5 separate regions of the Homo sapiens genome follow, and all the other regions are reported to be linked to region 5. Evidence: microRNA targets listed by miRTarBase, many of them from high-throughput screens and not tested one by one. Region 5 holds a microRNA gene; each other region holds the end of a gene's coding sequence. Distances are between the middles of the regions.

Region 1 (5,105 bases), not on the chromosome of region 5:
CTCTTATAATAGGAGTTATAATAGTAATAGGAACCTGCTTACTGTTCCTTTGTTTGCTACCTGTACTTCAAATGATAAAAAGCTTCATTGCTACCTTAGTTCACCAAAATGCTTCAGCACAAATGTGCTATATGAATCATGACCTGTCTTGCAAGAAGACATGGGTAGTGAGGATGGAAGTGAGAACTCCCACTAATGAGTGAGGTTCTCAATGTGGGGGAATAAGGGAGGAGACCACCCCTCATATTGTCTTATGACCAATTTCTGCCTCAAAGAAAAAGTAGGAGTTAAAGAAAAGAAAGAAGCAAAATCAGTAAGACAGCCCGGCACTGCATTCCAGGTCTGGTAGTTAAAGATTAACCCCTGATCTAACCAGTTATGTTATATCTATAGATTCCAGACATTGTATGGAAAAGCACTGTGAAAATCCCAGTCCTTTTCTGTTCCATTCTGATTACCAGTGCATGCAGCCCCCAGTCACATACTCTTACTGCTTGCTCAGTCGATCACGACCCTCTCACACAGACCCCCTTAGAGTTGTAAGCCCTTAAAAGGGACAGAAATTGCTCACTTGGGGAGCTCGGTTTTTGAGTCCGCCGATGCTCCCAGCTGAATAAAGCCCTTTGCTTCCACAACTTGGTGTCTGAGGGGTTCTTGTCTGCAGCTCATCCTGCTACAGAACTTCCTGCATTTTCATTAAAAACTTTATTATTTGGGAACAATACTATGCAGCCACTAAAATCATGCTTTCAAAGTATTTAAAAGCATATGCAAATATTGGTCTTCTTACACTAAACATCATGATGTGGTTTTCTTGGATCTTGTGTGGATACTGTAAAAGAAAAATTTTAGGAATAAGCCAGTGTTCATAGCATGTCAAATGCTCTCTTGAATGGAGTAATTACAGGCAGCCCAAATGTGCTCTCAGCCACTAGTGGTGGTAGAACAAATGCAAAGCTGGTACTCAAAGTGACTCAGGAGTATGGCAATTTTTCTGTACGTGCTTTTCTAACAGTGCCTAGGAATGATGGTTTTTGCCTAAAAACAGGAAAGTTGGGTCGTCTTTATTGGAGCTTTCTTGCCATAGTCAAATAGAAAATAATCAGTGATGAGTATCATCTAACAAATTGATGGCTGACCTTAATGGAACATACTCAAAAGCTATCTTTTAAGCATTTGCTACTTTAATTAGAACAATTCATTCAGTATCACTGTTACAATATTCCATGACTCTTATTTTCAATATACTCAAAGCAACTTGAAAGTTTTATAAATTCTTTACTACAGTATTACCCGCTTATTCTGACACATAAAAGCTCTGTAGTTACACACTGTTAACATGTTAATGGCACATCTTACTAGCAACTTGCTGCACTTCTGTTATCAATAGAGGTTATGTGAAATACTTGGATAAGGACAGCCTGATTCTGTAGAAAATATCTGTTTTCTATAGAACAAAATATCTCCCAGTGGTAATTCAGCAAATTAGGTTCAAGAATGTGGGTAAAGGTAGGTGTAATGTTGGATTCTGAAGATCTACCTGCAGAAACAGATCTACCTACAGAAAGGCACGTAGAATTACTGTTAGGAAACCTAAGCAGCCTTAGCACCATGGTCAAGGTTTTAAAAACCTGATCTGTAACTGTTATGGGTTCATTTCCTAATGCAGAGAAACTGGCTAGTACACACAGTGTAGATTTAATGTGGGAAATATGACAACTTGGAAATGCTACCCAAAGATAAAAATCTAAAGACTATCAAAATTTGCTGTTTTCTAAAATCATACATTAGAATTTTGTGAAGTCTTCTGAATGACACAAAACCAGATGAAGGGAATCAGACCAAAATTACCTGAGTAAGGCCATTTCAAGTGCCTAACAAAGATGGTCAATATTAACTTGAAAAACCAGTGTTTCCTAAGTGTTCCTGATCAGAATTACCTGAGGTATTCCTTACAAATAAATTCTGAGGCCCATTCTCTTAAAGATTCTGGCTTAGCGGGTGGTACGTCTGGATTGAAGGCTAAGAATCTGTACCTTAAGCAATTCTAATTATCAGGCAAGTTTCGAAAATAGGGCTAAGCAGGAGTGTGTGTGTGTGTGTGTGCATGTGTCTGTCTGTGTGGAGGGGGGAGCGGGGAACAGGAACAAAGGAACAATACCAGCACTGTCTGGTCCCCTCATTCAAATACTGCCTGAAAAACTACCTGAGAATGAGAAACATTCAACTGAAGTTGAGGAATTATCTACAGAACACTGTTTATTTCAAGTCCAAAACACAAATTACTCATTTTTCTTAACAGACCGCATAATTTTTTCTGCATGAATATTTAGGGTTTCTCTATTCACAAGTACAGTTTATTACTAGACTTTAGGCTTGAATGATTCATATATATAGATATCAGTTTACTACAGAGGACATGTACTTTTAACATTTTTTGTTTAGAAAATATTTTACATAAAAACACAAAGCATTTACCAACACTCCACAACCAGTCTTCAGCAAAGATTTGGCTGAAGATAACTTTCTACAAAACACTCCAAGACTGAATAGAATGTAGTATTTTACATACTTTAGCTTATTGTTGCAGTTAAAAGCTCCCCCTTGTTTGATGGCTTCTGCATGTATCTACAAAGCAGAAGTCTTAACTGGTGACCTGTTAAATAACATTGCCTTTTTAAGTGAACTTGTCCCCAGCCCGGAACCTAAGTAGTCATAATGAAATAAAGTAATTGATATATGAGGGGCTTTTAGTAAGGGCTTTTTCAACCTAATAAAATAATAATTTAGTATCTATCAGTGCAATATTCTTTTACTGTTTTGTGTTCAATAACCACCTGGAGTGCTAATTGTCTAGTATAATCAGTTGGCATCAAAATAGAAAGTAAAAAGATGTACATTTAATATACCAATTCTTACCTGAATAATCTTGGATTTCTGGAGAATGTTCCACAAAGTGGAATTTCTTCCTAAAGTTATGCTGAATGTGGTACAATGTGTACAACTTGGTTAACCAGTGCCTGCTTTTCATTTCCAAGATTTTTCCTTATCTTGAATCAAATGCACAATCTTACAACTGTATCATAATGCACTGGCTTACAGTTCTGTATATAAAGTCCAACTCAAGCTTATTTTGGTTTATTGTACATGCTTTATTAAAATGGTACTTGTATTTACAGTATCTGCAGAAAGAGTCCCTTCCAAGGCCTCACACATTCAGACACATCCATACTGACACCCACTCCACAGCCCCATGCACCCACACCAGTGAGATGTGGAGGGTCAGACTCCTAAAATTAGGCAGCTGTTGGGGATAAGAGTTGATTTGTTTTTCAATTTTTTTGAAAACAGAAAAGCATGGGGGAATGCATTTGGCCATTACAATGCTAATTGAGTTTGTGTATATTACATATATGGCAGTTAACACTGTAATATTCCTTTTACATTCTATATACACAGAATGATATCAAGGTTTTATGGTCAACAGAATATTCCAACTTCAGTCTTAATGCTGCTTGTAGTGATTTCTGAATTCATTATAGGGGCTTTCCCTAAAAATAATTCAAGTCTATGTTAAGTGAAATAAGGCACAATTAATATTGATTTGATTTAGGGAAAGGGAAGGAAAGAGAAGGGATAAAAACTGGTTTCAAATGATCTTTCTGTTGGGGAACTAGCTCTGACTTAAACCCACCTGAAATTCCTTCTCCTAATTTCCAAAGATTTCTTTATAAAGATATTTTTCTTTTCCCTGACAAAGCCAAAAAGAAAAGTTTGGGAATTCACATTTTAATGTTTCAGTAGCCTGAACAACTCAAATTGATGTGTACCCCCACCTCCCCTGATCAGGTCGCCTCCCTCACCCATGTTAAAATAAAAACACAGTATGTGACACAGGAGTCCCTTGATGTTTCTTGAGGAGATCTGTACACTTGAGTAGCAAATACATATCTGGTTGTCTTCAATATATTTTAAAAAGAAAGAAAGAGAAAGAAGAAAGGAAAGAAGGAAAAAAGGAAGGAAAGAAGTAATATTGTGACTTTCTTGCTCTTTAAAAAAATCCCTGTCTCCTTCTTTTCAGGATGATGAAGCCCCACTAGACATTACAAACAACTGCAACAAATGAGTTTGGCAGCATAAATAATGTCTAGTTATTCAAATCTTCATAGTGAGATTAATTTATCTTGTACACAATTTGTTGAATGTTTTTCGCAGCAGGTGAATCAAACCCAAAGACTCCGGACAGTCTGTGAAAGGGAGTAAGAATTGCAGTTCTGAAGGCCCCTGACTTTGGTTGTTTACAAAGTTCAATCCTGTTTATTGTGATCCTTGGTATCTTCTTCATCTGTATATTCTGATGGTTCTTCTCCTGGTTTTAGGAGTCTGCCTACATAATCATATTTTTCTGAAAGATACATCAAAAGAAAATCAGTGGTGATCAAATTTGTTTCACTATTCCATTATACAGAGAAAAGGCATTTGTCTGTTTTAGAATCATATAAAATATGATTATTAGAATATTATCTAAATATTCTAAAATTGCTTCACCATGGCTGGTCTTTATACACATGTAAAGCCTGAACAAAAGAAAACAGGATTAGGGAACTTATAAGGCTTGGGAATTCTTTGCAAGAGGGTGTTCTGTACCAGTGATTCTTAGTTGGATACTGCATCAGAATCACTTGGAGATCTTTTTTAAAAATGAGTAAGTCCAGGACCCATCTCAGTACCCAGCTAAACCAGAACAGCTGTTCCAAGGGACCCAGGGGTCAGATAAACAGCTGGGACAGCATCACACAAGTGGTAAAAACTGATGTTATGAGGGCATAAGAAAGGGGAAAGATATTTTTTATCTACATTTCGAGTGTTAAGATCTGTAAAATCATTTTGGAATAAATTATAGTATTGAAATCAGTAATCAACTCAGTTTTAAATATAAGCCTGTATTTTTAAAAAACTAAACCTTAATGAAGAAGCTGACTGTAAGTATCACAATTTTTGAGGCTTAGAATTTGTAACAAGTCATTTTTTTAAATATTGATTTTCAAAATAATTATCACATGTAACAATCATATTTTTATTTAGCTATTTTTTGCAATTTCTTT
Region 2 (5,087 bases), not on the chromosome of region 5:
TAATAGCTACTGCTTTCTTTATTGTGATGATACGGTTTATAAAGTAATACATTTTAAGTTGTTAGAGCCAAAGGAATTATTAAGAAATTGTTAGAAAAGGCTGGGCGCGGTGGCTAACGCCTGTAATCCCAGCACTTTGGGAGGCCAAGGTGGGCGGATCACCTGAGGTCAGGAGTTCAAGACCAGCCTGGCCAACATGGCAAAACCCTGTCTCTACTAAAAATATAAAAATTAGCCGGGCGTAAGGACAGGTGCCTGTAATCCCAGCTACTCAGGAGGCTGAGGCAGGGAGAATTGCTTGAACCCGGGAGGCGGAGATTGCAGTGAGTCAAGATTGCACCCCTGCCCTCTAGCCTGGGCAACAGAGCAAGACTCTGTCTCAAAAAATAAAATAAAATAAAAAGTTGTTTGAAAACTAAAACATCCTTTCATCATCCTTATACTTTAATAGATATTATGTATTAAATGTTTACTTTGTCTTAACTGTAAACCAATTTATAGTTAAATAATTTTTTAAATTTCTTTGCCTTAATTAGAAATCACTTGTTTTAATTTAAAAAATTTTAATTATAAAAGCTCGGGTTTTCTGTAATATTTGTATATGTACACAGGTTCTAATGTCTGCTTTTTTTTTTCAGGATACTATTTTTGAGACAACAAATTAAGGAACTTGAAAAGCTAAAAAATCAGAATTCCTTCATGGTGTGAAGATGTGAATAATTGCACATGGTTTTGAGAACAGGAACTGTAAATCTGTTGCCCAATCTTAACATTTTTGAGCTGCATTTAAGTAGACTTTGGACCGTTAAGCTGGGCAAAGGAAATGACAAGGGGACGGGGTCTGTGAGAGTCAATTCAGGGGAAAGATACAAGATTGATTTGTAAAACCCTTGAAATGTAGATTTCTTGTAGATGTATCCTTCACGTTGTAAATATGTTTTGTAGAGTGAAGCCATGGGAAGCCATGTGTAACAGAGCTTAGACATCCAAAACTAATCAATGCTGAGGTGGCTAAATACCTAGCCTTTTACATGTAAACCTGTCTGCAAAATTAGCTTTTTTAAAAAAAAAAAAAAAAAAATTGGGGGGGTTAATTTATCATTCAGAAATCTTGCATTTTCAAAAATTCAGTGCAAGCGCCAGGCGATTTGTGTCTAAGGATACGATTTTGAACCATATGGGCAGTGTACAAAATATGAAACAACTGTTTCCACACTTGCACCTGATCAAGAGCAGTGCTTCTCCATTTGTTTTGCAGAGAAATGTTTTTCATTTCCCGTGTGTTTCCATTTCCTTCTGAAATTCTGATTTTATCCATTTTTTTAAGGCTCCTCTTTATCTCCTTTCTTAAGGCACTGTTGCTATGGCACTTTTCTATAACCTTTTCATTCCTGTGTACAGTAGCTTAAAATTGCAGTGATTGAGCATAACCTACTTGTTTGTATAAATTATTGAAATCCATTTGCACCCTGTTAAGAATGGACTTAAAAGTACTGCTGGACAGGCATGTGTGCTCAAAGTACATTGATTGCTCAAATATAAGGAAATGGCCCAATGAACGTGGTTGTGGGAGGGGAAAGAGGAAACAGAGCTAGTCAGATGTGAATTGTATCTGTTGTAATAAACATGTTAAAACAAACAAAAATTGTTATTTTTCTTTTCCTTCGGTCAGTGCACATTAGCATTTGAACTACCTGGGGATTCTTTATCAGAACTGTTCTTGTTGAATATTTATACTTAATTGAAATAATTCCTTAAGGGAGGTTTTGTTTAAAACGTATTAACAGGAAATTGTGTATGAGATATTTAATGAAATAAGAAATTCAACAAGAATGATTAAGTCACTTCCCAAGTGGTTGTCATTTGTTAAACCCTGGTTTACCTGTCTTGCTATTATGACATTTCATTTGGAAGGATGTTTGTGTTGTAGCTAACTGTTCAAGTCTGGTGCTGACTGCTGTTCTTAGCCATCACAAAACGCTAAATTTGTGTAATTGGAGCTTCCTGCTGTTATCTGGAAATAGCAGGAAAGCGCAGCTTTGTATATTGTTTCCTAAAGTATATTAAAATAAAAAAAGAAACTATTGCTACTATAAAATTACCTTGACTTTTTTTTTCCTTTGCTGAAATATTAGTCACATAGCCTTAGCTTCACACTGCCAGTAATGTATCAAATCACAAGGGTTTCCGCATGAAAAAAATCTTTTCTTCCCCCACAAAAAAACCTTTACCATCAAAATCTTGCCATCTGATTTAGAAAGGTGTTTCTTCTTCTTCTTCTTTTTTTTCTTTAAATTGGTTTAGGGTTTTTTGGTGATTTTTTTTTTTTTTTTTTTTCTGTTGGGGCAGATAAGTGCTTCCAAAACTGGCAGCACCAAGGGCTTATTTTTTATGTTAGACATCAATGTCAATGTTACTACATTCTCGGATGCTAACATAAATTTTGAAATTGCTCTTGTGCTTTAAGCATATATTGAAAGTATGGAAGTTAAATGTTCAGGCTTTTCAGTAAGCTCAAAAAGTTAACTGTAAGCGATAGTGTTGGTGTTTTCTAAAATACAAAAATGTTCCAGTGTAATTAAAAGGAATTAAAATCTTGAAGATATTTTCCTGTAATTTAAGGATACTTTTTAAATGTAAGAAAAGACATGTCATTAATTTATTGTCATGTTTATACCTCTGTGAGATTGTTAACATCTGCTGAATTTAACTAGTGCATGTAAATGAAACCCCAAAGAGCTGTGTGTTCAGCTAGAAACCTTACTGTATCTTTCCTGGAAAGAAGTGAGCAATTTGTTGTAATAGGCAAATGTTTCCTGATCAGATGGCAATTTGTGATTTAGGTAAATTTGAATTTGATTTGCTTATAGTCTACTGGTCTGTGTACCTATGTTTTGTTTTTCAAAAAAGTTTACATCCCTAAATGAATTAGTCACATATATTTAGGAGAAGATGCCTAATTTGGTATTTCTTAATAGTGAATTTTTTTTTTTCTTGAGACAGAGTTTCACTCTTGTTGCCCAGGCTGGAGTGCAATGGCACGATCTCGGCTCACCGCAACCTCTGCCTCCTGGGTTCAAGCGATTCTCCTGCCTCGGCGTTCCGAGTAGCTGGGATTACAGGCATGCACCACCACGCCTGGCTAATTTTGTATTTTTAGTAGAGATGGGGTTTCTCCATGTTGGTCAGGCTGGTCTTGAACTGCCAACTTCAGGTGATCTGCCTGCCTTGGCCTCCCAAAGTGCTGGGATTACAGGCGTGAGCCACCGCTCCTGGCCAGTAGTGAATTTTTAAACACAGAAAATCTAAAATTTTGTGGAAATATTTTAAATATTGCACCTTAATACAAGGTATCCAGCTCCTAACCTTAACTAGGGAATATCTATTAAAATAAGCATAATGTTCTGGACTAGAGTATTCCTTATCTAGTTGGTTATGGATTTGAACATGTACCTTGGTTTAGATACTTTGAAAATAGAAGTACTGAATAGCCTCTAGGGAACTTGAGTGGCCTTTCCCTCCCCCTGCCCCCCCCCCCCCCCCCCCGTTTTAAAAGATCAGTAGTCTCTATTCAAACTTTTAAAATGTCGTGGTATTGTAACAATATATTTGATGAAAGAAGGTTACAGACTCCCCTGAAGAACCAGCTTTCCTACGCTTTTTATTTTTCTAACTTGTCTAACCTGATTTTAAAATGACTGCAATTCCAGACTAAAAACATGCTTCAGCCCTGTTTCAAGACATTATGCTTCTTTTAACAGTCCAAATTAGTAGTTTTATTTTTCTTCTAAATCTTTGTTTCACACTTGTAAAATCTTGGGAAGGAGGTTCTTAAAACTTTGCCAGGAATTGTTACCCATTTCCAAAAACAGTTTATTATGTTCAAAAACCACCATATCTTTGAGGGACTGTTTGAAAGGGGAGAGGGCAACGCGGGAAATAATTCACTCTGCGCACCGGAACTATTGTAGTTCAGGACTTCCAGCTACTGTATTTAGATGTTGGGTTTGAATATACAGATTTCTTTTCAATACCTGTAAATATGGCTATATTCTTGTATTTGTACGGGAGTGTACAAAATGACACTGAAAAGTAATAAATATGTTTTGACTATATTGTGCAGTTATTTCAGAACTGTGTTTTGAAAGTCTTAGAATGCATAATTTGCATTTGAGTAAGGAAATTTAAAATACAGATTACTGCTGAGATTTTAATCAGTCGGTGTGTTTCAATAGTCTCTGAAACATTTTAGTGAAAATTATGACGTAAAATTGGGATTCTTTAGGTCCTGCTCTAATTTGCGGTACCCTCCTTTTCCTGATCACGACCTTTGATAGTGCCCTAAAGTGCAGCCTGTCTAGAAGATCTCATCCAGGCTCTTGGCTCTAAAAACCCCTTCATGTGCTACTTTACATCCCGATTATCTCCAGCCCTGATCTCTTTGAGTTCCCAAAAACAGTCCACTTAGATGCTTTCCTTAACACGGCATGCACTCCAAAAAGAACTCACGGTTTGTGCCTCAGATTATTCTCTTTTAGTTTTTTAGTAATTGACACCATCATTGTTAAAGTTGCCCAAAACCCAAATCAAGTCATCCTTCTTTTCTAACACTCGATATTTAATCCATCAAGACCCACAAGCTCTTTGAAAATGTTTCCTTAATGTTCACCTCTCTAGTCCAATCCACGATCATCTTTGAACCAAATCCCTGCCACAACCTCCTAACCTTTCTGCTTCTACTCAGATCTCCCAAGGTTTTCTCCACCCCACCTCCGCACACACACAACCTGTTCTCCACCAGGCTGTTCTGTTCATAATCCTGCAATGATTCACACTCAGAATAAAACCCAGAGCTCATACCATGGCTTGCGTGTTCAAGCCCCTGGTTATTGCCACGTTTTCATCGCTGCAGTCTCTCCTTGCAGGTTTGCTTTCCTCTGCCTAGAAAGCTCGTGATAGAAATTGGTACAGCTTGCTGCCCCTTTATCAGTCTCCTCAAAGAGGCCGTTCCTGGGCCAGGTGCAGTGGCTTACCCTTGTAATCCTAGCACTTGGGAGGTCAAGGTGGAAGGATTGCTTGAGCTTGAG
Region 3 (5,105 bases), not on the chromosome of region 5:
GAATTAGGTATGTTTACATCAGTCACCACAAACATGAGTAGTGTATTGCCCTACATTAGGAGAGCTATGACGTCACTAAGCCATAGGAATTTTTCCGCGCTTATGGGACCACCATCATATATGTGGTTCATTGTTCACTGAAACGTTGTTAGGTAGCCCATAGACTGTACTTGCATTATACTTAATGTTTCAGTCTTAATCTGAAATGTTCCAGCAAGCATTTCCTTTAAGCATCATGTCAGTGCTTTAAACATTTCAGAGTTTGGAGGTTTCAGATTTTCGGATTAGGTTAGGGATGCGCAGCCTGTACTCGTCAAGATCAGTATCCATTAAAATACAAAAGCAAGTGTTATTGTAATCATGAGCTGTTTTGTGTATACTTTAATTTGTTTTATTCTTTTCTCCTAGGTTCCTGGTACAGTTCAGACAGGACAAAGTATGTGTGAAGTTTATTCAGGGAAACCAGAAAAATGGGAGTGTCCCAACATGTAAACGAAAAAACAACCGTCTCCTTGAAGTTGCTGTCCCTTAACTGGCGCCTCCTCTCTACTTTCATGGACTTGTTCCTTTGTAATAGTGCAATTTGGTTTTGTTTTATTTGGGGTTCATTGTATGTTTGGGAATCACCAAAGGCTTTTAGAGTTCTTTGGCAAAATAAAAATATTTGACTAATCAATTTTTATTATTGGAATAGTTTTAACCTTTCAAATACATGTTCTGTCCTGGAGCAGGATTGTAGAAACTAACAGTGTCTATTTTCATGTCTGATGTGTTCTTCCTTTAGTCATCATGTTAGGTCTGTGTACCCTAAATCAGCATATTACTCATAAATCATTAATTAATATAAGCATAGGAAATGGTCTTAAAAGATACTGCATTCATTCATCAGATATTTATTCCATGCCTACTCTATGCTAGGCACTGTGCTAGATGGTATGAAAACTTATTAGGAACCTTTTTGTTTTTGAGACCATTGCATTCTGGCTGGTTTGTGCTGGTTTAACGACATCTAAGAAGGTTTAGAAATGGTGAGACCAAAACAATAACTGTTAATGATGGACAGCATTATTAGGAACCCTGTAGTATGATATTTAACAATATAGGCTTCAAGAAGGGCTGGTCCTAAGAGGGGGCAGAAATGAATGACCAGGTTAAATCCCTCTACATGTGGTTTCTGTTTGAAAAAAAGAAAACTGACATTTGAACAGGACTTTTAATTTGTTTAAAACTCTGGTAATTACTTGTAACAGTAGAAAATAGAAGTCATTCTTATTTTAGAAAAAGTGACAGAAGCAGTCCAGTAAGATTATATGTTTCTGTTTCTGGTAAATACCATATATGATCCTCGAAATGATAATATCTCCAGAATATTGTTTTCACCCAAATTTGAGTAGATATTTTAAACACCTAACAAAGTAAAGGGCTAAAAGCCATTCAGATAGCAGTAAAACATTCTGTATGATGTGCAATAAAACATCCAAGATCTTTTTTGAAAGTTTTATTTATAATATACATTTTTGTATGAGAAAGGTGATTGGTACAGGGTGCCTATTTTAGTCATGGATCAAAATTTGTGTAACTTGCAGGGCTTTCTTTCTTTTTCTTCAAATTTACAAGGGTTCATTTTGGAAACTACATTTTAAACTTTGGAATCAAATTGTTTCTTATTTGGGAGGATAATGTATATACATTGGTATTATGTTAAATAATAAAATTGTTCTAATTTGGTGCCATTTCCTGAATCACAACTGTATTTTTGTATCTCAAGCTATTTTCATATGTTGTGTGTCAATGTATCATCTCTCAGAAAGGTTTTACAATCCAAACATTATATGTTCTCTGTGTAACTGAATTTCACTTATCTTTTATAAACCAGAAACATTAATTGAAAATATTTTCTGGGGATTTTCTCTTGACTTGTATTTTTAAAAATTGCTCACATAAAGAAGTTCTCAGAAGTCTTTGTGTTTATTGGTGCAGGTAGAGGATGTAATTACTTAGATTCTTCTTGCCTTGTGCCTAAAGTGGTAGATTAATAGTTCCTGATACTGGTGAGTAGAAATTTGGGAATGAGAGGGTGTGGTGTTTTAAATAACATGCAGTATGTTCACATTGTTCAGCATGTAAGTAAGTGTTAAAATATATACATTACAAATTCTCCATCCTATCAACCAGCTATCTGCTTAGTTCCCACCCTCCCCGAAACATTAACCATTGTTGTTAGTTGCTTTTGTATTACTTTGTCCATATGTTTGCAAAAGGAAATCAAAATAGATTCTTACGTTCTTCTGCTTTAGTAGACAAAAGCTAGTATATTATATTGTAGCCATTGTTCTTTATCTTGCCTTTTTCACCTAGCAGAATATCATGAAGAGCTGCTCATTCTTCCGTTGTATGGATGTGCTGTGGTGGATTTACCTGGTCTCCTACTCATTATCATTGGGTTGCTTCCTAAATGGAACTTGAGGATGGAAGACTAGGATGGAAAGGAGAAATATCCCATAGGTCTACTTGTTAGATTTTTCCAAATACCTTATTTGCAGATTGTTCAATCAGTCTTGTCACTGAAGTATTCAATAATTTTTGGTCATGGAACCCATTCTTCATGGGTTGTGACTTGACGTGTTGGGAAAGATTTGCTGAACTGCAGCCAGAAAGCTTCCTTATGTACCAAGGTGAAAGCCCTTCACATTCCCCATTGGGAAGAGCAGTAATAACCTGACCACACTACAAAGGAGAGTGCCACTATGGCCCAGGTGACCCACTATAGAGCAGTGTTTCCCAAAATGTCACTGCGCATCAATCTGGTTCAAAACCACAAGGAAAGCTTGTTTTTTGTGTGTGTGTTTTTTTTAATTTTTGGTTTTGTTTTGTTTTGTTTGGAGGCAGAGTCTTGCTGCAACACCCAGGCTGGAGTGCAGTGGCACATTCTCAGCTCACTGCTACCTCCGTTTCCTGGGTTCAAGCGATTTTCCTACCTCAGCCTCCTGAGTAGCTGGGACCACAGGCATGCACCACTACGCCCAGCTAATTTGTTTATTTTTAGTAGAGACGAGGTTTGACCATATTGGCCAGGCTGGTCTCAAACTCCTGACCTCAAGTCATCTGCCTGCCTCAGCCTCCCAAAGTGCTGGGATTACAGGCGTGAGCCACCGCACCCAGCTAGAAAGCTCGTTTTTAAAAGATTACAAAAAAACAAAAACCCATGCCAGTTCCTGGGCCATACCCTATACTAACCAAATCAGAATCTCTGGAATAGAGTTTGAAAACAGACATTTTAAAGAAAATCTCCAGATGCATTCCAGCCTGGGCGACAGAGTGAGACCCTGTCTCAAAAAAGAAAAATCTCCAGATGACTCACACACATTGAAGTTTGAGAACCACCAAGGGAAATTACTAGAGCTTCTCTATAGCTACACACAGCCGTCTATGCCTTAAAAAGTCCTCCTTTGGTGACCCTCACCCAAATATGAGAACCATTAGTCTAAAGCTTCCCTCTGGCTGCACATGGCCCAGTGAGCCATACCTGCCAAATCTGCCAACCCCAGTGCCGAACTAGAGGTTACCAATAACTGTGGCATCACTCTATTACAGTGAGCAAGAAACTGATACTCCTTTATCTCGGTTTCTGTCGCTGTCCTGCAAAGGAAAGTTAAAGCATTCATGACACTCCAGAATTCCTGTGTATTCTGGCCTGGCCTCACAGCCCTAACTTGTTCCCACCCATAACTTAGAAGGTTGCTCGGCCCCTGCAGTGACTTCTAGGAGTGAGTGGAGTGACTAGACCTAGTCACCTAGGACCTAGACTCCTAGATCTAGTCCAGTAGTGACTAGGAGTACCCAGACCCTGGAGTGACTAACTGATGGGCTTGAAAAAAGTAAACGGGTAATGGGTACCAGATAGAACATGGTAGTTGCCAAGGTATGCAGTGTAGTTGATGCAGCTACTCTTGACTTTGATTTCCATCTGCCACAGGACAAGAAGGGAGTATGGGAATAGTTATTCTCTAATGGCTTGATTACAGTTTTGTACTGCACACTCTTGAATAATAACTTGGACCCAGAATTCAAATGGAAGGCCTTCAGCTCAAATTTGAAAAGCTTTGCTCATACCCAGGGGTGATGGGGGTATGTCTGTAATGGCAAAGAAGCAGGCCAAGAGTTCTGAGAATCATAGGGATATCGTCAATATTACGGATTTGGCAGAAATCTAAGAGAATGAACTGTTTATTATGCCATGTCAATTAATATGCTGAGAACTCTCAAGTTCATGTAATTGAGTATAATTGTGATAATTAGAGCATGGTTCAAAATGCTTTTAGGCCAAATATAAAAGGCAAAACTTCTTATCTGTTACTTTTCATATATAATAGGTAAGGTATTTCTTAGGCTCATTGAAATCTTGAAATAGCAAGTACCTTTGAAATGGTGTAAGTTGCTGGGGAAGGATTTAGTAAATTCATTAATGTGTCTGTTCTCACAATGAGTTTTAACCAGAATGTATCATATTAAGAGCCTTTGTTTTTAAGCTGGACATTGTTTTTCCATGAATATTGTGGTACTCAAATTCACTAAAACAATTAGATGCATAGGGGTAGAATGGAAGAGAAAGAAGGGCAGTAGTTTTGCTTTTCTTTCCTCCTGTTGAGAAAAACAGCTGTAAGTTTTCATCATACATTCGAAGATTTTCTGTTGTGTTATTATTGGAGGAGCACTTTCTTTGAGTCTTACTTTAATAATTCTGTCGTGTGCTCTTTGATTCTTAGGTTTTTGTTAGCTAAACCCTAGGAAGCCGTAACCTTGATGAGGTGGCACATGCTTTCTGGTCTCATCAGCTTTTATTTCATTTGCCACACAGGAGAAAATTAATTGTTTTGAGTTGGTTTCCTCCAGATCATGGAATGTTTGCCTCATTTTCTTTGGTTTGAAGATCATTTTCAAAATCTGGAGTTAATCACAGTACAGCAAAAGCCACAATCTCTTTCTCATTAACTTTTTTTCTGGCATGGTTGCTAGATCACCTCTGGTCAGTTCCATGAAATTCGACAAAAATCTAACTTTATAACCAAGGAAAATAGTCTCAGCTTCTCAGTATTTCAGAAAGG
Region 4 (5,084 bases), 11 Mb from region 5:
AAGGCAGGGAAGCCCAGTGGTCAGAGCTGGGGTTGGCTTCACTGAGGTGTCTGGGTGGTGGTGGGTAGAAAGGTCAGTGTTGTCCAGAACTGTCCACAAGCTCCGGCTGTTCTCTGTAACCTCAGTCCCTGTGTCTTCAGCTCTGAGCCTCCCTCCTTGAATGATCCTCCAAGTTCCTGTCCTGACCTCAGGAGGAAAAGGGATGAAAGATAGAGAAAAGGAAAGGAAAGATAGGGAGGAGAGAAGGCAGACACATAAGAGTAAGGGCAATTGAGGGCAAGGACCTGAAGGATGAAGACAGGGGAACAAGAGATGCCAGGGGCTGCGGTCCAAGAAAGCAGTCCCAGAGAGGGGAAAGATAGAAAACACTTGTGCCGGGCTTCCGTTTACAAAACAGTTTCCTACACAGTGCGGGCATTAATCCCACTTTGTGGCTGAGGAAACGGAGGCTCATAGACATTAAGGGTCTTGTTCAAGGGGCTAAGTCAGTAGTGGTGAAGGTGGGTCTCACCCAGGTGTTCTCATTCCTAAGCCTGTATTCGCTCTTCTCCCCAAACAACTCCAGGAAAGGAAAGGATTGAAGACTTAGGGAACAAATGAAGTGGCTTCTTTGAAGCACTTGTACAAAGAAGGGTGGAGAATCCAGATTTTTGAAACTTTTCTGCATCCAGTTATTGTGTAGATTCACTTAGAAGAAATGGCATCAGATGGGGAAGGGGGTGGTCAACATTCCATTATTGAGAACTGGGGGTCGGGTGAGGATGGGGAACACAGAATGTAAAGACAGAGAGCAGGATGAAAGATGGGAGAGAACTAAGAGGCTACAGCTGAAAAGGGGGCAAGGGAGCCTCAGAAGGAAGGGTTTGGACCCTTAAAACTTCCTTTGCCTAGAGACATGGGTGTGGGGAGAAGGGAGGAGGAAGGACATTTCTATCTCGTGACAAAAGAAAGTCACACAATTGTTTTGTTCTCTGCTCTGAGGCGGGTGGGCGCCTGTATTTACCAGAGGGACCCAGGTCGCTGTGGCAACCACACATCTGGGCCCCGGAATCCAGATGTGCTGTATCCAGAAGCCATAGCAGAACGATGAGGCAAACATCAGGCTCCCCAGTGCTGGCCCCCACAGCTGGGAAGAGGATGGAGAACTGGTGTGGGAAGTAAAGGGAGTGGGGGAAGGAAGGAGGAGGAGAGGACCAAAGTGGGGGAAAAGAGAGGACATAATGGAAAGGGGCAAGAAATGTGGACGAGGGAGCAGAATGGGAAATAGAAAGGGGGCGGCATGAGAAAGGGAGGAGACAAGCACAGGGTCAGCAGCAGCAGCAGATGAGAAGACCAAGAAAAACAAAGGAAAAAGACAGTGAATTTAAAAATATATATATATTTTTAAATAAGGCCAGCACGGTGGCTCATGCCTGTAATCCTAGCACTTTGGGAGGCCAACATGGGAGGACTGCTTGAGGCCAGGAGTTCAAGACCAGCCTGGGTAACATAGCGAGACCCCACTTCTATTTTTAAATTAAAAAAAAAATTTAAGACAGTGAAGCAGTGGATGGGGTGGGGAAGATACAAAAGAAGAAAAAAACAGTGATGAATAATGGTTCAAAAAGAGGTTGTGATAACTGCTAATGAGGTAGAGAGCAAAGAAAGGCAGGAAAGAAGTCTAGAAAGAGGAAGGGAGGGATGATGAGGTCAGGGATGAGAGAGAACAAAAGGTGGGATCCTGAGGAAGAAATGAAGGAGATGGTGGCACAAGGAAAGCAGAACAGAAAGACAAAGTGGGCATAGGGCAGGAGGGGCCAATGAGGTGCAGGAGTGACAGCGACCTGGCATGCTGAGTGGCCTTGGGGGTGTGGCCAGAGGAATGGAGATCCACATGGGCCTAGAAGGCAGCAGCCCAGAGCCTGCCCGGCTTTCACCCTGCATCAGGTACCCACTCACCGTCCTTCTCAATCCTTCCTGCCACCACAATCCCTCAGCCAAGAGAGGTCTGATGTCTCATCCACACCAAAGTGCCAGCTGTCCCTTGCCAATCAGCAGAGGAGCAGGATGTCCCACCCCAGGGTGACCCCTGAGATGCCAGCACTTCAAGTACTTTCCCGAACTGGGGGCAGGAAGGAGGAAGACAATGGGACAACGAAACAGTAATGAACCCAAATGGGATAAAAGTGGAAGAGAGAAGGACAACAGAGATGGGGACAGAAAGGGGCAAGGGATGAGGAAAAGGTGTATCTATTATGGACCAGGCACTGAGGACGTCGTCTTTCATCCTGTCATCAACCCTGATTAGGAGGTAGGAACATCCCATCTTACAGATAAGCAAACTAAGGCTCAGAATGTTTAAGGACATCTACTAACGAAAGGCAGGGTAGGGAATCCAGCTTAGGTGATGTGCTTCCAAAATCCTTGTTCTCACTGCACCCCCTCCAGAGATACGGTGGATAAGGCTCAAGGACTCTGGGATAGAAAGCATAGCTGAGAAGCTGGGCTGCCCTCTGGAGGGAGGAAAGGTCTAGTTCCTGGGATCCCTGGTTCCAGGTTGCCATAGTTACTTGGTCTGTTTTCACCCCAAACACAGTAATGGGTGAGGGCAGTGGGAGGGGTGTGGGGGTTGCCTGGCTGGACACATGAGGTTCTTCCTCCCTCCTTCAGGCCTGGGCTTATGGCCCAGGCAGCCCCTGTCCAGTCATCTGGGCATTGAGCCCAGGCCCAGCTCACACCCTCCAGCTGACCCAGGACACTCCTGCAGGGTCAGGCCTGAGGCACTGCTGAACAGGAGCAGCTGGAGGGGGATTCTTCCAGGTTGGCCTCAGACTCAATCCCTCACTTTGTCCTGCTCCCCTTCCTCCTAATTAGAATGCACAGCCTAGCCAGGCATGGTGGCTCACACCTGTAATCCCAGCACTTTGGGAGGCCGAAGTGGGCAGCCTGGCCAATATGGTGAAACCCTATCTCTATTAAAAATACAAAAATTAGCCGGGTGTGGTGGCGTGCACCTGTAGTCCCAGCTACTTGAGAGGCTGAGGCAGAAGAATCACTTGAACCCAAGAGGCGGAGGTTGCAGTGAGCCAAGATCGCGCCACTGCACTCCAGCCTGGGTGAGAGAGCAAGACTCCGTCTCAAAAAAAAAAAAAAAATTAAAAACATAAGAATGTACAGCTTTTTCTGCCTGCCCCACTCTTGTCTTTGTCTTTCATCTGGACTCTCAAGTCTCAGTCCCCTCCAGTTTAGGGCTTAGAGGATATCCTGCCACATCCCCCTTCCCTTCCAAATATCACCCCTTCTTCACCGAGACCCCCACTTCCTGGGCTCTGAGCCTCTGGCCCCAGCTCTTGTTGTTTGTTTGAGCTGCTCATCCTGGACAGCAAGAAGAGGGGGAGAACCTGCTCGAGAGCAGGAGACCCAGAGGCTGCTCACCCTGAAGGGCGTGGGGCCCCATCTTTCCTGTTGACTCACATTCCAGGGATGCGTATCCTCTAGTCTGTCACGCCATGAGACATCGTTGCTAGACACAGATATACCCCAGAGTTGCAGGGGTGGGGGCAAGGGGATGACATGCGGTCTGTGATCCCGCACCCACCCCACCTCAGAGCCAGCTATGTCTTCAGTGCTTGATTCTTTGATGCTGGCTCTGGAAAAGCCACTTTCCCCCAAACTCCCCATCACGAGCCAGGAAGGCAGCCACCATTCCTTCAACTCCCTCCAAGTTGTTTATTTAATAATAATAAAAAAGAAATGCACACACATAAACCTGAACTCCCCCCCACCCCACCCTCCCTTACTCCCAGTAACTAGCTCCAAAATGAAAAAACTTCCCTTGTCCCACCTGGGGACTAAATTCCCACCTCCACTGCCATAACACTAGAGAAACAAAATAAAAAATATGCAGCAGCTCACCACCCACCCCACAACTGAACCTCACACAATCCCCTCAAACAAAGAAGCCAGGACTGGGGGTTCACAGGAATGAGAGGAGCCCTATATTCTGAAAAGGGATGAGAAGAGAGGTGAACACCCCCACCTCAAATAAGTGCTTAACCCCCACACCTGCTCTTTCCTTTACCAATTGCCCCAAGCCTGGGGATCAGGGAAATTTGAAACAGTCCCACCTGGCCACCTGGTACCCCCTCCCCCCGTTCTAAGTCAGTGTGAATGGCAGAGGTCAGGGATGATTGAGGTAGAGGGGCTGGTGGGAGGCCTGGTGGGCCTGGCTGGCTGCAGAGACTGGCAAGGGGCCACCTGTGGCATTGCCTGGGGTTGGGGATGGCTGTTTTCGGAGCGAGGGGGGCACTGTGGAGGTCTTGATGTGAATCACCCTGGTGTCCATGACCTCACACTCGATCTGCATCATCTCCTCATAGTCCCCCGGGGCCCCACGGCCTGACAGGGTCTCTGTGAGAAGGGGAGAGTTAAGGAAGAGGAGATGGGGAGGCAAACAGGGATTGCAGGGAGGAGGGGAGGAGGTCAGAAAAGTAGAGGTGAGCAGAGAGAAAAAGAAAGGGCAATAGTGAGGAGGCAGATCCATAGCGGGAGTTAAACAGGATGGCAGGGACAGAGTTTGGTGCAGGGGCAAGGAGAGGGTAGGAAAAGAAAAGGGCATTGAGTGTGGGGTCACACAGGAGAGGACATCAAGAGAAAAAAGTAAGTGAGAGTCTAGCAGGTTCCCGGCCCCCCGCCTCTGCCCAGTCATCTACCCAAGCACCTTCACCAGGGAAGGACCCTCACCCTTGTCTCCCTCCCAAGTCTCCTGCATGGTGCTCTTCCCTCCACCTACTTCCTGCTGCTTCTCACCTGTGGGTCCAGCAGCTCTCTGGATGCCCTGCTCCTCTCCCCCTTCCCCCTCAGCTCCCAGGCTGGATCTCCCTGTTGGAACTGCCCCCATACCCAGCAGGGAAAGAGTTACCATTGGGGGCCATGGCAGGCATCACCAGGGACATCTTGGGCCGGGAGGTCTTGTTGTGGCTGATGGCTGGGAGCAGCAGGTGGTCCTGGGGAACAGATGGGCCAGGCCAGAAGGGTGGAGGCAAAGATGCCAACAAGCTCCCCAGCCCTACTCTACATCCCCCCACTGAAGACAGACTGCTGGG
Region 5 (5,105 bases):
GAGAGCTCCGGCAGCCTCAGGACATTTGCCGCCTCCCCCACAGACTGCAGCCAACCTACCTGGCTCGTGTCTTCCAGGCACACTGGCAGGAGGGGGCACGGCTGTGGAGGGCCTTGTATGGGGCCTTTGGACGGTGCTATCTGGCACTTGGACTGCTGAAGCTGGTGGGGACCATGTTGGGATTCTCAGGGCCCCTGTTGCTCTCCCTACTGGTGGGCTTCCTGGAAGAGGGGCAGGAGCCACTAAGCCACGGCCTGCTCTATGCTCTGGGGCTAGCCGGTGGGGCTGTGCTGGGTGCTGTGCTGCAGAATCAGTATGGGTATGAGGTATATAAGGTAACACTTCAGGCACGGGGGGCTGTGCTGAACATCCTGTACTGCAAGGCTTTACAGCTGGGGCCCAGCCGCCCTCCTACTGGGGAGGCCCTGAACCTACTAGGCACTGACTCTGAACGGCTGCTTAACTTTGCTGGGAGCTTCCATGAAGCCTGGGGCCTGCCCCTGCAACTGGCCATCACCCTCTACCTGCTGTACCAGCAGGTAGGCGTGGCCTTCGTGGGTGGTCTCATCTTGGCACTGCTGCTGGTACCCGTCAACAAAGTGATTGCCACCCGCATCATGGCCAGCAACCAGGAAATGCTACAGCACAAGGATGCGCGGGTTAAGGTGAGCGGGTACTTGGGGTCCCTCAGCTATCTGGAGACCCCACCCAGCCCAGGTCCCCAGGTCTTCCCATGCACACTACCTGAGGGAGTGAGAGTGACCTCAAAGTTAAGAGCTGAGACTGGAGAAAGGTAGACCTGGGTTCAAATCCTGGCTCTACACTTACTGGTTCAATCACTTCAGACAAGTCACTTAACCTATTTGGGCTTCCCCTTCCTCATCTGTAAAGTGAGAATAGTAGTAGCTTACCTTGTAGAGTTGTAAGGATCTCATGAGATAATGCTTAGTGTAGTGCCAGTCACAAAGTAAGCTCTGAATACATGTGGCCACCCTGGGAGGTAGGAAGTCATCTGTCTGGCTCCAAACAGGTCTTTAGGGCCAGAGCTGGGACCCAAGTCTCCAACCTCCTTATCTAGGGCACAGACCACCCCATGGCTGCATGTAGAGACCTAGGAGAACCTCAGCTGCCTCTTTGGGTAGGCTGAGGGGAAGGGAATAGGTCACTTTCCTGCCTGGGTCAACTCCAGGTGTTTAGGGTTTGGCTGAATCTGCAGAGCTCTGGGTTCTGCAGTGATTGTGGGTACCTTCACAAAGGGGATGGCAGTCCTGGGGGTTCATACAGCATAGTTGTCGACCCTTAGTGGAACAGCTCAGAGTGCTCCTGGAGGGAAGGGAGGTTGATAGATGGTTATGGCATGAGGCATTTTCCCCTACCTGTGACAGCTACAGACGAGGAGTTTTGGCCCTTGCCCATCTTCCCTGGGCCCATTAGCCTGTTTGACCCTGGGCTGTAGTGTGGCCTCTTATGCCTGTGTACTTCTACAGGAATAGTTTCTGTGCCACTCAAGCCGGGGGCCGGAACTGGGGGGCCAGCCCCCGAAGCCCACATCTTTTGGTTTTGGGAGATAGCCCTTTGTCCCTCATCTAATGGGAGGAGAGCTTTTACTCCACTGTGGTGACCTGGCTCCACCTTCCACCACTCCTCCTAGGAAGGTGGGGAATTCCCACTCCAAGCTGTCCCCAGCTGGAGCAAATGGAGAAGTAAGAGACTGGGAGGGGAAGCAACCCAGGGCTGAAAAGGATTTGAAGGGCAGGATTTCCAGAAAGTACTGAGGTGAGGAAGAAAACCAAGACTAGGGCAGTGCAGAGTATCTGGGAGCTTAGAGTACTGAACATTCTGCCAGCAGCCTGGGGAAGGCTTGGCAGGGAAGACACATGAGCAGTGCCTCCACTTCACGCCTCTCCCTTGTCTCCTTTCCCTAGCTTGTGACAGAGCTGCTGAGTGGCATTCGGGTCATCAAGTTCTGCGGGTGGGAGCAGGCACTGGGAGCCCGAGTAGAGGCCTGCCGGGCTCGAGAGCTGGGGCGACTCCGGGTCATCAAATACCTGGATGCGGCCTGTGTATACCTGTGGGCTGCCCTACCGGTTGTCATCTCCATCGTTATCTTCATCACCTATGTCCTCATGGGGCACCAGCTCACTGCCACCAAGGTGAGGACCAGGAAGGAAGGGGACCAGCATCAAGGAGACTTCAGCGAAGTGAAGACAGAGGCTTGGGCCCTCAGTGCTGGCTGAGAAGGAGGGAGGGATCCCTGACTGCCTCATCTCTCAACCAAGGGAAAACTGAAGAAACCTTTTTGTGGGGGCCTTGGATATATAACCCTCCCCTCTGTGAAGGAGTTCCTTTCTTTCCTCTCCTCTACCTTTCACTCCAGCTTCTATTCAGTTCCAGGCTTGGGGTTAGGTCTCTTCATCCTCGTTCTAATGGCCTTAGGAAAAAAATGTATGATGCAATCCTGGGTCTAGCCAAGGCCAGGTGATGTTGCTACTTGGAAATTCTAAAAAAAAGACTCAAAATGAGCTAGGCCTGCCTAGTTAAAAAGATGCAACCTTGGCCAGGCGTGGTGGCTCACACCTGTAATTCCAGCACTTTGGGAGGCCAAGGCAGGCGGATCACCTGATGTCAGGAGTTCGAGACCAGCCTGACCAACATGGTGAAACCTTGTCTCTACTAAAAATATAAAAATTAACCAGGTGTGGTGATGCATGCCTGTGATCCCAGCTACTCAGGAGGCTAGGGTAGGAGAATCACTTGAACCCTGGAGGTGGAAGTTGCAGTGAGCCGAGATTATGCCACTGCACTCCAGCTTAGGTGACAGAGCAAGACTCGTCAAGAAAAAAAAAAATGCAACCTGAATCCCTTGAGGAACATTGGAATTTCTAGGATTCTTTAAGTGACCATCTCTGCCACATCTGATCCCAGGATTGGCCAGCCAGCCCTTCAGTTCTGTCATTGCCCAGTTCTTCCCTCCGTAGACCTGTCCACAGGGCTTCCCATAGAAACAGGCCCTTAGATAACTCCTGGGGCTTCACCCTGCACCCACCTCACTCAGGTGTTCACGGCCCTGGCACTGGTGCGAATGCTCATTCTTCCTCTCAACAACTTCCCTTGGGTGATCAATGGTCTCCTGGAGGCCAAAGTGTCCTTGGACCGGATCCAGCTTTTCCTCGACCTTCCAAACCACAACCCCCAGGCCTACTACAGCCCAGGTAATGGGAAGCTAGTGGGCAGAACCTGGCACAGGGTGAGGAGGGAAGTGGAGCCACTTGGGTGCTGCGCATAGATGTCACCAAGAGGGCTTAGAGAGAGCGGAATCCAAAACAGACTCATTTAGCTTTGGGCAGGTAGATATGGGGCTGGCAAGTGAATTACATGATTTACCCTCCCCAAACAGATTGTGGTAGATTAGGAGCCCAAATCAAGTGGCTTCTCTGTTCAGATCCCCCTGCAGAGCCATCTACAGTATTGGAGCTGCATGGAGCCTTGTTCTCCTGGGACCCAGTTGGAACCAGCCTGGAGACCTTCATCAGTCATCTCGAAGTGAAAAAGGTTTGTTGGACAGACACCCTGGGAGAGTCCTCAGACTAACGAGAGAGATGGGAACTCATGTCAGAGAAGCAGTGACCGAGCCAATCATAGCTGATGGCTCTGCAGCTCTAATTGCTGCAGGAGGGATAGGCATTTGGTGAGCAGGTTCTAATCATGAGGAGATGACACCTCACATCTGAATCTCAGAATAGTTGCACCTCTCTCTGGTCTTTAGGCAGCTTGTATCCATCCAGTCCAGACCAATGGGTGTGCTTGTCTCTCCATGTCCCTCAGAAGCTGCAGCATTCAGAACAGGCCCTGGGGTTTATGTAGCATCTCCCCCAGATTGGGGATCTGGGGGAGAGGCCCAGCAAGTGCTTCCAAGAAATATTTTGCAAATGGGGATCCTCTGTTTAGGCTGGTGAAAAGCAATCACACCCTGTGACTCATGCTACAGCATACAAAGAACTTAAAATGGGGCATTCCTGGCAATAAGCCAACTCCTGTTCACCTCCTGTTCTGAGTTTTCACTCTCTCCTGACCTTTGTCCAACCCTGTGCCCCACAGCTCAACCCGGCATTCTCTGGTGGTGGCTGAATTGCCTCCACCACATTTGGCTCACGTTTCTGGCTTGGGCTGTATGTTTTGTTTTTCCTCTTAGTTCAGGCAAGACAAGGCTAGATTTGTACAAAGGAATTTTGCTAATGTGTTAGTTGGGGCTTTTTTGGGTATAAGTTACAGAAACACACTAGAGCTAGCTTAAGCAAACAAGAATTTATAATAAGGATGTAGAGATACATTGCAGAATCCAAAGGCAGGAACGCAGCTGGATCTTAGAAACAGCCCAGAACCAGGCCTCAACTCGCAGAGCTCTCTGCTTCTGTGTGCCTCTCTCCCTGTATTTGCCTGGTTCTCTTCTCTCTGTGGACACACCCTCCACTGAGCAGAAGATGTGACTACAGAGAATGCTCGAGTTTACAAGTTACAGCCAACAAGGAGAAGCTGCCTCTGGGACCTGATCCCAAATTCCCATGGAAAGGTCTCAGAAGTGGTGCCCACTTGTAGCTGGGTCAACCCTGGCTGGCAGGGTTGGGGCATCACAGGCAGATAGAGCTTCTGAGAGCCCAGTCCCTTCTAGAGAAGGAACTAGGACTTTTTTTTTTTTATATTTTTTTGAGCAGGGAGATAGCTCCATGAACATATGACCAAAAAAAAAAAAAAAAAAAAAAAAGGTAAACAGAAAAATTTAAGCCACAGAAATAGGGATCTATGCAAAGCTCTGCTTTTTCCCCTGAGATATGGTAACTCTAGCCACAGGTCGACTTAGCCAACCCATCATCCAGGCCCTAAAGCCTGGAATTCTACCCTTCCCTCTCCCGTTCTGGAGTGCCTGTCTCAGAGTTTACCTTGGAAGTTCTTGGGTGGTTTCCTCCCATTCTCTCTGGCATGCTGCTCCCCTTCAGAGGCCCTTCACATAGACAGTGAAACTGATAGCCACTCTGAGTGGAGAAAAAAACACCCTACTTTTCTAGAGCCTGATTTGTTGATCAGCCTGTGAAGCGGAGAATTCTTTC

Evidence for each region. Region 5 holds the annotated microRNA hsa-miR-6780b-3p (UCCCUUGUCUCCUUUCCCUAG, at 1,905-1,925, shown strand). A microRNA usually pairs through its seed, bases 2 to 8, with sites in the 3' UTR of a target mRNA and lowers its output. Matches are read on the target gene's strand: a 7mer-m8 pairs with bases 2 to 8, a 7mer-A1 pairs with bases 2 to 7 and ends in A, and an 8mer does both.
Region 1: miRTarBase lists PGRMC2 as a target of hsa-miR-6780b-3p. Seed matches in the 3' UTR shown: 7mer-A1 at 3,901-3,907 and 7mer-m8 at 2,602-2,608.
Region 2: miRTarBase lists WAC as a target of hsa-miR-6780b-3p. Seed matches in the 3' UTR shown: 7mer-m8 at 827-833 and 7mer-m8 at 2,178-2,184.
Region 3: miRTarBase lists MYO1B as a target of hsa-miR-6780b-3p. Seed matches in the 3' UTR shown: 7mer-m8 at 1,613-1,619.
Region 4: miRTarBase lists ATF6B as a target of hsa-miR-6780b-3p. Seed matches in the 3' UTR shown: 8mer at 3,811-3,818.

The regions. Positions count from the first base shown.
Region 1 is chr4:128,267,009-128,272,113 of GRCh38, forward strand. It overlaps PGRMC2 (progesterone receptor membrane component 2), which reads right to left. Exons shown (of 3, transcript NM_006320.6): 3 at 2,234-4,405. The coding sequence ends at 4,308. Among named protein-coding and RNA genes, the nearest start is that of PGRMC2, 18 kb to the right of the region's middle.
Region 2 is chr10:28,618,899-28,623,985 of GRCh38, forward strand. It overlaps WAC (WW domain containing adaptor with coiled-coil), which reads left to right. Exons shown (of 14, transcript NM_016628.5): 14 at 639-4,214. The coding sequence ends at 708. Among named protein-coding and RNA genes, the nearest start is that of BAMBI, 56 kb to the right of the region's middle.
Region 3 is chr2:191,423,429-191,428,533 of GRCh38, forward strand. It overlaps MYO1B (myosin IB), which reads left to right. Exons shown (of 31, transcript NM_001130158.3): 31 at 409-1,958. The coding sequence ends at 532. Among named protein-coding and RNA genes, the nearest start is that of MYO1B-AS1, 180 kb to the left of the region's middle.
Region 4 is chr6:32,111,580-32,116,663 of GRCh38, forward strand. ATF6B (activating transcription factor 6 beta) reads right to left here. Exons shown (of 18, transcript NM_004381.5): 17 at 4,901-4,985; 18 at 3,685-4,389. The coding sequence ends at 4,160. Among named protein-coding and RNA genes, the nearest start is that of TNXB, 4.8 kb to the left of the region's middle.
Region 5 is chr6:43,432,696-43,437,800 of GRCh38, forward strand. It overlaps MIR6780B (microRNA 6780b), which reads left to right and starts at 1,847; the gene lies at 1,847-1,925. It overlaps ABCC10 (ATP binding cassette subfamily C member 10), which reads left to right. Exons shown (of 22, transcript NM_001198934.2): 3 at 1-665; 4 at 1,926-2,153; 5 at 3,056-3,212; 6 at 3,443-3,552.